2 separate regions of the Homo sapiens genome follow, and region 2 is linked to region 1. The links come from fine-mapping of genetic effects on gene expression. A gene starts in region 1. The other region holds a variant in brackets. All regions are shown on one strand. Distances are between the middles of the regions. Region 1 holds the start of CHST3 (carbohydrate sulfotransferase 3). Region 2 overlaps CHST3 (carbohydrate sulfotransferase 3).

The links. PIP is the estimated chance that this variant, and not a neighbour inherited with it, causes the effect.
Region 2: its variant is the best candidate, but not a certain one, in a credible set for the expression of CHST3 in prefrontal cortex (CommonMind, PIP 0.89).

What each region holds. Positions count from the first base shown.
Region 1 is chr10:71,962,115-71,967,484 of GRCh38, forward strand. It overlaps CHST3 (carbohydrate sulfotransferase 3), which reads left to right and starts at 2,281. Exons shown (of 3, transcript NM_004273.5): 1 at 2,281-2,580.
Region 2 is chr10:71,989,570-71,994,939 of GRCh38, forward strand. The region is part of intron 1 of CHST3 (carbohydrate sulfotransferase 3); the gene reads left to right. Among named protein-coding and RNA genes, the nearest start is that of CHST3, 28 kb to the left of the region's middle. RefSeq lists a silencer at 2,050-2,223. The variant CT/C (reference allele first, on the strand shown) is at 3,089.

The DNA of each region.
Region 1 (5,370 bases):
TCAGGGAGGGGCAAAATTGGCGGGGTCAAAGAAAGAGGAGTTGTCGGCTGGGGCTGTTGCGGGGGTGGTGGGAGACGGGGGTGGTGGGAGACAAGTCTGGTGAGTAGGATTTGGAAAGTGGAGCAGTACTGGCAGAGGGAAGGGCGGTTACGGAGAGTGAAGAAAGCCTGAACATAAGGAATCTCAGACCATTTCCCACTGCGATGGCAAAAGTCGTCTAAGTCTCTAAGTATATTGAAATCAAAAGTGCCATTTTCAGGCCATTGGGAGCCATTGTCCAATTGGTATTGAGGCCAAGTGGTATTGCAGTAAAAGATAAGTCTCTTAGAACGGACCTCTGAATGGAGGCTGAGAGCCTTGAGATTGCAGAGGAGACAGCCAAGGCGGGTGGTCTTGGGATGGGTAGACTGAGAGGCTCCCATAGTGAATGGAGGGTGGGGGGTAGAGGAAGAAGAGACTGCAGATGACAAGGATGGCGAGAGAGGGTGTCCCCTGTCCTGCAGGCCTTGTCTGGAATAGAGGCAGCCACCGAGTCAGGTGTCCTTCAGGTCTCCTCTATTCTGGACAAGGCCCTTGGGTGAGGGGTGATAGGAGAGAGAGAGGGGAGGGGGGAGAGGGAGAGAGAGAGAGACACCTCTAAGGACACGCAGCCAGAGCCTGTCCCCTTCCTGGGTTTCGGCACCAAAATGTAACGTTAGCTGAGAGAAAGGACAAGAGAGAGACCCAAAGTTAGGCGAGTAAGTTTATCCTGCCGGGCTGCTCCACCACAGTCAGAGGAGGCAGCCCTGGAGCTTATAAAATGAGGGGTTCATATGGGGGAGAGAGACCCTGGGGTTGTCGGTTAACTTTACCACATATCATCTCGTGACCGCTTACAATATAGGAATTTAGAAGAGGGTGTAACTTAAGTTTATCCACATTTCTCGTGACCTTCCCCATGCTGCCTGTTGGGCTGTAAGCAAGTCTGGTGACCTTGCTGTAGCACCTAGATAAGGGTCCAGGAATGCAGCTTCGGAGTATTCAGGGTAAGGGTCAGCTGCATTGTGTGTGGGGCGGGGGGTTCCTGGGGCAACTTGTCCCTAACAGGGTCAGGATTAGTTCTATCTGGTTCTCTATTTGCTGTCCATCTGTAAATGCTGAGAATGGCAGAGGGAGGCCAAGTGTAGATAATCAGGTTTTAGCTTTTTTGGATTTTCCTACTTCTCCTGTACAGGAAATAACTTATTGTCTAAACCCCATACTATCCCATTAAATGTCAGGAGTGCTGTCTTAGGCCTGAATTAGCTCATGACGTTACGTACTGGAAGTCCCAGGAGGAATGCCCAGCAAGTGGAATCCAAGACGTTCTCGCCTTCTCGGGGACAGGGCCATCACCAGGATTCGGAAAGGAACAGGGAGGTTCGGTTTGTGTTCCAGTTCTGAGCCCTTTACCTCATCCCTCGAGAAGCTGGCCTTTGCACCCCGCAGCCGGTGCTGCCCAGCCGACCACGCCATGCACGGGAGGCGACTGGGACCCCACTTGCCTGGCAGCCCGGCCGGAGACCCAGCTGCCTGGGAGGGTCCGAAGATAATGCCAGGCAGCCCTGGCGGGCCGGGAAGACCCTCTGTCCCTCCCGTTTCCCAGTTCTTGAATTAGGGGAGCCTTGGACTGGCTGGCGGCGCAGGAAAGTGCAGGAGGGCGGATGTGGGACCTGCTGCCGCCCAGGGAGACGGTGCTCTGTTCTTTGGAACCAGGGAAACCGTCCTCCAGCCCACTTGCCCCAGGGGGGAGCAGGAAGATCCTCTCCGGGCAGAGATGATGGGGAACCCGTGCAGCCAGAGGGTCTCCCTGGCAAAGGTCGGGGGAGGGGGCGGCCGTAACGGCCCCGGGCGCTCCGGCACGGAGAAGCCAAGGGGGTTCTCCAAGCAGCCTCCACCCACCAGCCTCGCCAGGAGAGCGTGGATACCCGAGCGGCCCCAAGCGAGTCCCCGGGGACTGGAGGGCCGAGGGGCAGCGCCCGGAACAAAGGCCCGCAGAGGGGTCCTGGAGACAGCGGCTCCCCGGGGGCGGCTCCCCTCTCTCCCCTCTCTCCCCTCCTCTCCTCTCCCGCCAGCTCCTCCTTCTCCTCCCCTTCCTCCCCCAGAGGCCCGGCCGGCTCGCGGCCCGAGCAGCGCCAACTTCGCCAACGGTTCCCAAGTTGCCGGGCGCGCAGGGGTGGGAGCTGGGTGGGGTGAGGAAGAGGAGGAGGAGGAGGAGAAGGGCTCCCGGACGCCTTGGACGCGGTTCAGGAATCCGCCGCCGCTAGCCGGCTCGGGCCTGAGCGGGGAGGGCGCCAGGCAGGACCTCTCGCAGGCTCGCTGCGCAGGACGGCGCCCGCCTGGCGCCGCTTCCCTTCCAGCGTGCCGACCGGCCCCGCAGCGCCTCCATCCCTCCGGCCCGCCCCGGAGAAGACGCACAGCTCGGGCCGCGCGGGCGCCGGGGCCGCGGAACCGCTTCTGCCGGGATCTTCCAGGAGGAAAGCGAAGTTGCGAGCGGATGCTGCCCGCGCCGGACCCCAGCCGCGGAGGGTCGGGGCCGCCGGTGGAGTCTCGGCGGCCGGGGTAAGTGGGGCGCCGGCGTCCTGGAACCGCCGCCCAGCCCGGGGGAGGCCGCCCAGCCGGGAGCCCCCGCCTTCCGCGTCCAGGCGCGCGCGCCAGACTTTGGAGGGAGAAGGGGGCGAAGCGGACGGTGGGAGGTGGAGTTCCCAGCTCGGGGAAAAGCCCAGGCAGGCACCCACAACCCGCTGCAACCGGATCACACCTGCCAGGTACACACAGCTCATCGCCACTCATACCCCGCACACGGCGCAGGCTGATCTGCGCACACCCACACCGGCCAGGCACATGCCACACACCGAAATGCACATTCCTGGGAGCGCGGGGGATTTGGCCTCTACAGCAGGCACGTCCTCACACCCCTCCGTCACATCCACGGCCTTTGTCTGCTGCCCCCGCAGCCCCCAAGGAGAGGGAGCCCCCAAAGCGCAGCGGGCAGGAGAGAGGCTGCCTGGGTTTTGAAAACTTGTGGCCAGAACCCCGAGACCAAGGGGAGCAGATGTTGCAGTCGGTTCTCGGAGTTCTGCAGGAGCGAATTTGGTGTGGAAACTCGGTGTCTGGGTGATGTGTGAGTGTGCGAAGCCCTTCCGGAGGCGAGGCCCGGAGAGAGGAGGGAGTGATTCATAAACTCAGAGCCGGCGTGCCAGGGTCTGTGAGCAGCGTGGAAGAGGCTGGCAGGCCGTTGCTGCGCTAGACAGAAGGGTAGTGGCCGTGACAGTCTTCCAGGGAAGCAGGGACCCTTCCCCCCAGCGGATGTGCTTCCTCCAGGGACTTCCAAGGGAACCGGGTGAGCAGATTCCAGTCCTGGGTGTGGACGGGGTAAGGGGAGGTGGGGGGATTTAAGCCTAAAAGGTTAGGGAGAAACCAAGGCAGGCCTGACGCCTTCATTATTTTCCTTGCACCTGAAGTTGTGTTTGGTTTCTGATGCGTGGTGTTGCTGGGCCCCAGGATGTACGGGGGATTGTCCTGGGCCTAGCATAGTGCCTGGCACAGTGGGCACTCAGTCAGTACTTGCTTGATGAATAATGACACCGGTAATTATCATTCATTATGGACTCACTGTGCGGCAAGGCCAGTGGGCCTCTGCTGGGTTGAAATTGATTTTCCAGCAGAGAAGGGGGCCTGAGTAGCTCCTAGGAGCCCTGCCTGATCTGCTTGGGCCAGTGGCCCAGGCACTGTGTGTTCCACTGTGTCCCGTGGGCTGGCCTTGGGAGACTGGAGCTCATCATTGGCCTCTGCCCCTCTAAGAGGGCAGCAGGAAAAGCTTCATTTCTGTATCTGGCTAAGATGGGGTTGATGTGGGTTTTGGTAGATGGCAGGCTGTTTGGCAGATTCTGTGGGGTCTCAATTGAAGAATAACTTTAGATCTGCAGCAGAGAGAGGGGTTGGTTCCATCAACCCTCCCATCTCCTGGCTGCTGGAGAAGAGGGGTGGGTAAGTGGAGAAAGAGATGGGCCGTGCTGCTGGGCATGTGCTGGGGGTAGGAGGAACATGGGAACATGTAGAATTTGGGGGCAGCCGTTTTTCTTCCTGGCTCCTGATGGCCTGGCTGGAGATGGGTCTCATGAAGGGTCTAGGAGCTGTGTTCTGCAGCAGTGGCTTGGCTCTGTGGTGGCAGCAGGTAGAGCAGTGGTCACAGTCCCTGTACTGAGTATTGCTGTGGGTTCTCCTGTGCCAGCTTGCATGAGTTTCCCAGAGGAGCAGAAACATTCGTGTTCCTGGAACTGGATTGCCAGTAGTCTTGGGATTGAGAGTGCACAAAGATGTGGGGGTGGCCTGGGCATGTCATCCAAAAGAAATGTGTCATTCCCCACCCCTGCCCCCTTGTGAAGAGCTCTGACTAGGTTCAGTGTGCATTTCAAACTTCTAAATGCTGAAATTAGCAAGGCATGTGGGCGGCACCAAGGACTGGCCTCAGATGAAAGAGGAGGTGATCTGGGCTTGGGCACCCCCAATTTCAGGTGGAACCCTGCAGCCAGTTCCTTCCCTATATCACCTTTCCACCTTCATTATGCCCTCTGTGAATCGAGAGTTCTGTATACATTTTCTAATTAAATCATTATATCCCTATGAGGTTAGCATTTCATCTCCATTTTGCAGATTAGGAAACTGAGGACCAGAAAAGTTAAGTAACTTTTTCAATGTCACACAGGTAGTGAGAGACAAAGCCAGTGTTTGTGTATTTGGTTTTTTTAAACTTTATGTTAGGTTCAGAGGTACGTATACAGGTTTGTTACATAGGTAAATTGTATGCCATGGGGGTTTGGTGTACAGATTATTTCATCATCCAGGTAGTAAGCATAGTACCCAATAGGTAGTTGTTGGGTTTGTTTGAGACAGGGTCTCTATTGCTCAGGCAGGAGTGCAGTGGCACGATCACTGCCACTCACCATAGCCTCGACCTCCTGGACTCAGGTGATCCTCCTGCCCCAGCCTCCCGAGTAGCTGGCACCACCATGCCTGACTAATTTTTTTGTATTTTTTGTAGAGACAGGGTTTTACCATGTTGCCCAGGCTGGTCTCAAACTCTGGAGCTCTAGCGATCTGCCTGCCTCCACCTCCCAAAGTGCTGGGATTACAGGTCTGACACACTGCACAGGCCCGAGATGGGTGGTTTTTGATCCTCACCCTCCCCACTGTCTCCACCCTCAAGTAGGTCCTGGTGTCTGTTGTTCCCTTCTTTGCGTTCAGATGTACCCAATGTTTAGCTCCCACTTCTAAGTGAGAGCATGGGGCACTTGATTTTCTGTTCCTGTGTTAGTTTGCTTAGGATAATAGCCGCTAACTCCATCCATG
Region 2 (5,370 bases), 27 kb after region 1:
TAAGCGCTAACTGTGTGTAGGATGATGGATTGGGACACAACTCCATATGCTTTTTATTTCCATTATTTTTATAACTTTCTCTTATATTGATATTTTAGTAACATGGTAACAAATTTAAACAATAGAAGAAAGTAGAAGTTAAAAGTCAGTGACAGTTCCCACCCATTCCCCAGTTCCCTCAACCACTCTTGTCAATCTCTTCTTTCCATCTCCAAAGATATCCAGCATTTGCATGGATCCAGTCCAGTTTGTAGGCAGTTGGTAGCATGCCACGCATACTCTTGCCCTTGCTTTTATCACTCATGTCTTGAACAGCATTTTATGTCAGCCCTCCAGAACTTCCTCTTTCTTTTTAATCATTACAGAGTATTGCACTGATAAATGTACCTAACATTGAGCTAACAAGTTGCTGTTTTTTGTTTTGGTTTTGGTTTTGCCTATTAACATGCATTAATGTCATGGTTAGCCTTTTGTAATTATAATCGATTTATTGTTGTATATGTCCTTGTTGTATCCATGCAAATATATCAGCAAGATTAGTTCCTAGAAGTGGAATTCCTGGGTCGAAGAGTGTTATAGCAGTCCTTTGGGGCTGCTATAACAAATACCATACACTGAGAAACTTACAAGTAGCAGAAATTTATTGCTCATGGTTCTGGAGGCTGGGAAGTCCAAAATCAAGGAGCCAGCAGATTTGATTTGGGGAGGGCTGCTCTCTGCTTCCAAGATGGCACCTACCTGTGGCGTCCTTACCTGGTGGAAGGAGCAGACAAGCTCCCTTAGGGCTCTAATAATTTTTCTTTTTTTTTTTGACACGGAGTTTTGCTCTTGTTGCCCAGGCTGGAGTGCAATGGTGTGATCTTGGCTCACCGCAACCTCCACCTCCCACGTTCAAGCAATTCTCCTGCCTCAGCCTCCTGAGTAGCTGAGATTACAGGCATACGCCTCCATGCCCAGCTAATTTTGTATTTTTATTAGAGATGGGGTTTGTCCATATTGGTCAGGCTGGTCTCAAACTCCCGCCCTCAGGTGATCCACCTGCCTCGGCCTCCCAAAGTGCTGGAATTACAGGCATGAGCCACCATGCCCAGCCTCTAAAAAGAACACTAATCCCATTCATGAGGGCTCCACACTGGTGACCTAGTCACCTCCCAAAGGCCCTACCTGTTAATGCCAGCACACTGGGATTCGATTACAACACAAAAATTTTAGAGGGGCACAAACATTCAGCCCATAGCTAAGAGTATGCATATTTAAAACTTGTGATGGTTTGGCCAAATCATCCTTCAGAAAGGACACTCCCATGAACATTATGTATTAGGACGGGACGGGCTATGCTGTAGGAACAATTAGTCCCCCAAATCTTAGTATTTAACACAGCAAAGGCTTGTTTTTTCTCTTGCGTCACATCTGATGCAGATGGGGTGGCTCTCTAAGCAGCATCCCAGGGATCCAGGCTGCTTCCATTGTGAACTAAGCCAGTTGGAACATGTGGCCTCCACTGTTGCCACAGCCAGGGGAGAGAGGCCTGGATGAATGTGTGGGAAAATTTTAAGCAAAGTGGCTTACATCACTTTCACCCACATCCTACCTGTCAGAACCAGTCATATGGCCTCAGCCTGACTGCAAAAGAGTCTGGGCAATGTGGAGGAGCCCCTGGCCACTCGATGAGCCTCACGTCTCTGCCAGTCGGTTCCCCAGAAATTCACCCACACAGTATATTCCAGGGCGTTTTGTTCTTCGCTAATTAAATATATGAAAAATGGCGTCATGTAGACTGTCGTTCTGCCCTGCACGTCTGTGCTTTCTTTGGGCAGTTGCCCTCCGCCTTTTTCTGCTGAAATATTCATAGGGGATTATGTTCACTCCAGACACACTCCAGTGGCCTTCCCCAAATTTTCCCAAAACCCCAAAACCTTTTGTGGGGAAGCCCTAAGACATTCTATATTTTGGCTGTTACAGGCATACCTCAGAGGTATTGCAGGTTCAGTTCCAGACCACTGCAACAAAATTAATATCACAATAAAGCAAATCACACAAATTTTTTTGTTTCCCAGTGCATATAAAATTTACATTTACACGGCCGGGTGCAGTGGCTCGCACCTGTAATACCAGCACTTTGGGAGGCCAAGTCAGGCGGATCACCTGAGGTCAGGAGTTCGAGACCACCCTGGCCAACATGGTGAAACCCCGTCACTACTAAATATACAAAAAATTAGCCAGGCATGGTGGCAGGCACCTGTAATCCCAGCTACTCGGGAGGCTGAGGCAGGAGAATCGCTGGAACCCGGGCGGCAGAGGTTGCAGTGAGCCGAGATACATGCCATTGCACTCCAGCCTGGGCAACAAGAGCAAAACTCTGTCTGAAAAAAAAAAAGTTACTTTTATACTATACTGTAGTCTATTAAGTGTACAGTAGTATGTCTAAAAAAAGTACATAACTTAAAAATACTTTATTTGCTGAAAAAAATGCTAACAATCATCTGAGACTTTAGCAAGCGACTTGTAGTCTTTTTGCTGGAGAGGGTCTTGCCTCAATGTTGATGGCTGCTGACTAACTGCTGAAGAGTAGGGTGGCTATGGCAATTTCTTTCTTTCTTTTTATTTTTTTTGTTTTTGTTTTTTGTGTTTTGAGACAGGGTCTTGCTCTGTTGCCCAGGCTGGAGTGCAATGCCACAATCATGGCTTGCAGCAGCCCTGATCACCTTGGCAATGCCCCGACCTCAGCCTTCCGAGTAGTTGGAACCACAAGTGCATGTCACCACACCCAGCCTATGTTTTTATTATTTGCAGAGACACAGTCTCACTATGTTTCCCAGGCTGGTCTCGAACTCCTGGGCTCAAGGAGTTCCTGGGCCCGCTTGGGCCTCCCAAAGTGATGGGATTACAGGTGTGAGCCACTGCACCCAGCCACAATTTCTTAAAATAACACAACAATAAAGTTTGCTGCATCAATTGACTCTTCTTTTCATGACGGATTTCTCTGTAGCATGCAATGCTGTTTGATTCACAGTAGCACTTCTTTCAAAATTAGAGTCAATTCTTTCTAACTCTGCTGCTGCTTTATCAACTAAGTTTATGGAATATT[CT/C]TTTTTTTTTTTTTTTTTTGAGATGGAGTTTCACTTTTGTTGCCCAGGCTGGAGTGCAGTGGCACGATCTCGGCTCACTGCAACCTCCACCTCCCAGATTCAAGCAATTCTACTGCCTCAGCCTCCAGAGTAGGTGGGATTACAGGCGTCCGCCACCACGCTTGGCTAATTTTTTGTATTTTTAGTAGAGGCAGGGTTTCACCATGTTGGCCAGGCTGGTCTTGAACTCCTGATCTCAGGTGATCCACCTGCCCCGGCCCCCCAAAGTGTGGGGATTACAGGTGTGAGCCACCACTCCCAGACAATTTATAGAATATTCTAAATCAAGCTTGTCCAACCCGCAGGCCACGTGCAGCTCAGGACGGCTTTGAATGTGGCCCAACACAAATTTGTAAATTTTCTTAAAATATTATGAGATTTTCTTTGCGTTTTTTGTTTGTTTGTTTTCTCATCACATATCGTTAGTTGTTAGTGTATTTTATGTGTAGAACAAGGCAATTCTTCTTCCAGTGTGGCCCAGGAAAGCTAAAAGACTGGACACCCTGCTCCAAATCCTTTGTTGTCATTCACAGCATCTTCACCAGGAGTAGCTTCCATCTCAAAAACCACTTTCTTGACTCATACATAAGAAGCAACTCATTCATTCAAGTTTTATCATGAGATTGCAGCAATTCGCTCATATCTGCAGGCTTCATGTCTAATTCTAGTTTTCTCTTATTACTTCCACCACATCTGCAGTTCATTTCTCCACTGAAGTCTTAAACCCCTCAAAATCATCCACATGGATCCACTTCCTCCATCCACTTCTTAGCATCCACTTCTTCTAAATTAGCATCCACTTCTTCCACATTCCTATTCATGTTGATATTTTCACCTCCTCTCCTGAGTCACAAATGTTCTTACTGGCATCTACAATGGAAGGTTTTCAGTTTACTTTGCCCAGATCCAACAGAGGAATCACTGTCTATTGCAGCTATAGCCTTACAAAATGTATTTCTTAAATAATGTAACTTGAGGGTCAGATATGGTGGTTCACGTCTGTAATCTCAGCACTTTGGGAGGCCAAGGGAGGAGGATTGTTTGAGGCCAGGAGTTCAAGACCAGCCTGGGCAACATAGTGAGACATCTCTACAAATTAAAATTTAAAAATTAGCCAGGAGGCCGGGTGCAGTGGCTCACATCTGTAATCCCAACACTTTGGGAGGCTGAGGTGGGTGGATCACCTGAGGTCAGGAGTTCAAGACCAGCCTGGCCAACATGATGAAACCCTGTCTCTGCTAAAAATACAAAAATTAGCCAAGCGTGGTGGCGGGCACCTGTAATCCCAGCTACTTGGGAGGCTGAGGCAGGAGAATCGCTTGAACTCGGGAGGCGGAGGTTGCAGTGAGCCGAGATCACGCCACTATACTCCAGCCTGGGTGACAAAGCGAGACTCCATTCAAAAACAACAACGAAAATTAGCCAGGTGAAATACCATGCACCTGTAGTCCCAGCTACTTGGGAGGCTGAGACAGGAGGATCACTTGAGCCCAGGAGTTTGAGGCTACAGTAAGCCATAATCATGCTACTGCATTCCAGCCTGGGTGACAGAGTAAGAAAACCCTGTCTCAAAAAAAAAAAAAATTAATTAATTAAAAAACAGACTTGAAAGTCAAAATTACTCCTTGATCCATGGGCTGCAGAATTAATGTTGTGTTAACAGGCATGAAAACATTACTCTCCTCTTACCTGTCCATCAGAGCTCTTGGGAGACCAGGTGCATTGTCAATGAGCAGTAGTATTTTAAGCAGTAGGTGTCAACAGTGGGCTTAAAATATTGAATAAATCATACTGTAAACAGATATGCTGTCATCCAGGCCTGTTCCATTTACAAGCACAGGCAGAGTACATCTTGCTTAATTGTTAAGGTCCCTAGGAGTTTTAGAAGGGTCAACGAGCATTGGCTTCAGCTTAAAGTCACCAGCTACCTTAGCCCCTAACAAGAGAATCAGTCTGTCCTTTGAAGCTTTGAAGCCAAGCATTGACTTCTCCTCTCTAGCTATGGAAGTCCTAGATGGTATCTTCTTTCAATAGAAGGCTGTTTGGTCTACATCGAAAACCTGTTGATTATTGTAGCCACCTTCGTCAGTGATCTTAGCTAGATCCTTGGGATAACTTGCTGCCAATTCTCCATCAGCACTTCCTGCTTTACCTTGCACTTTTATGTTATGGAGATGTCTTCTTTCCTTAAACCTCATGAACCAACCAACGCTAGCAGCTTCCAAATTTTCTGCAGCTTCCT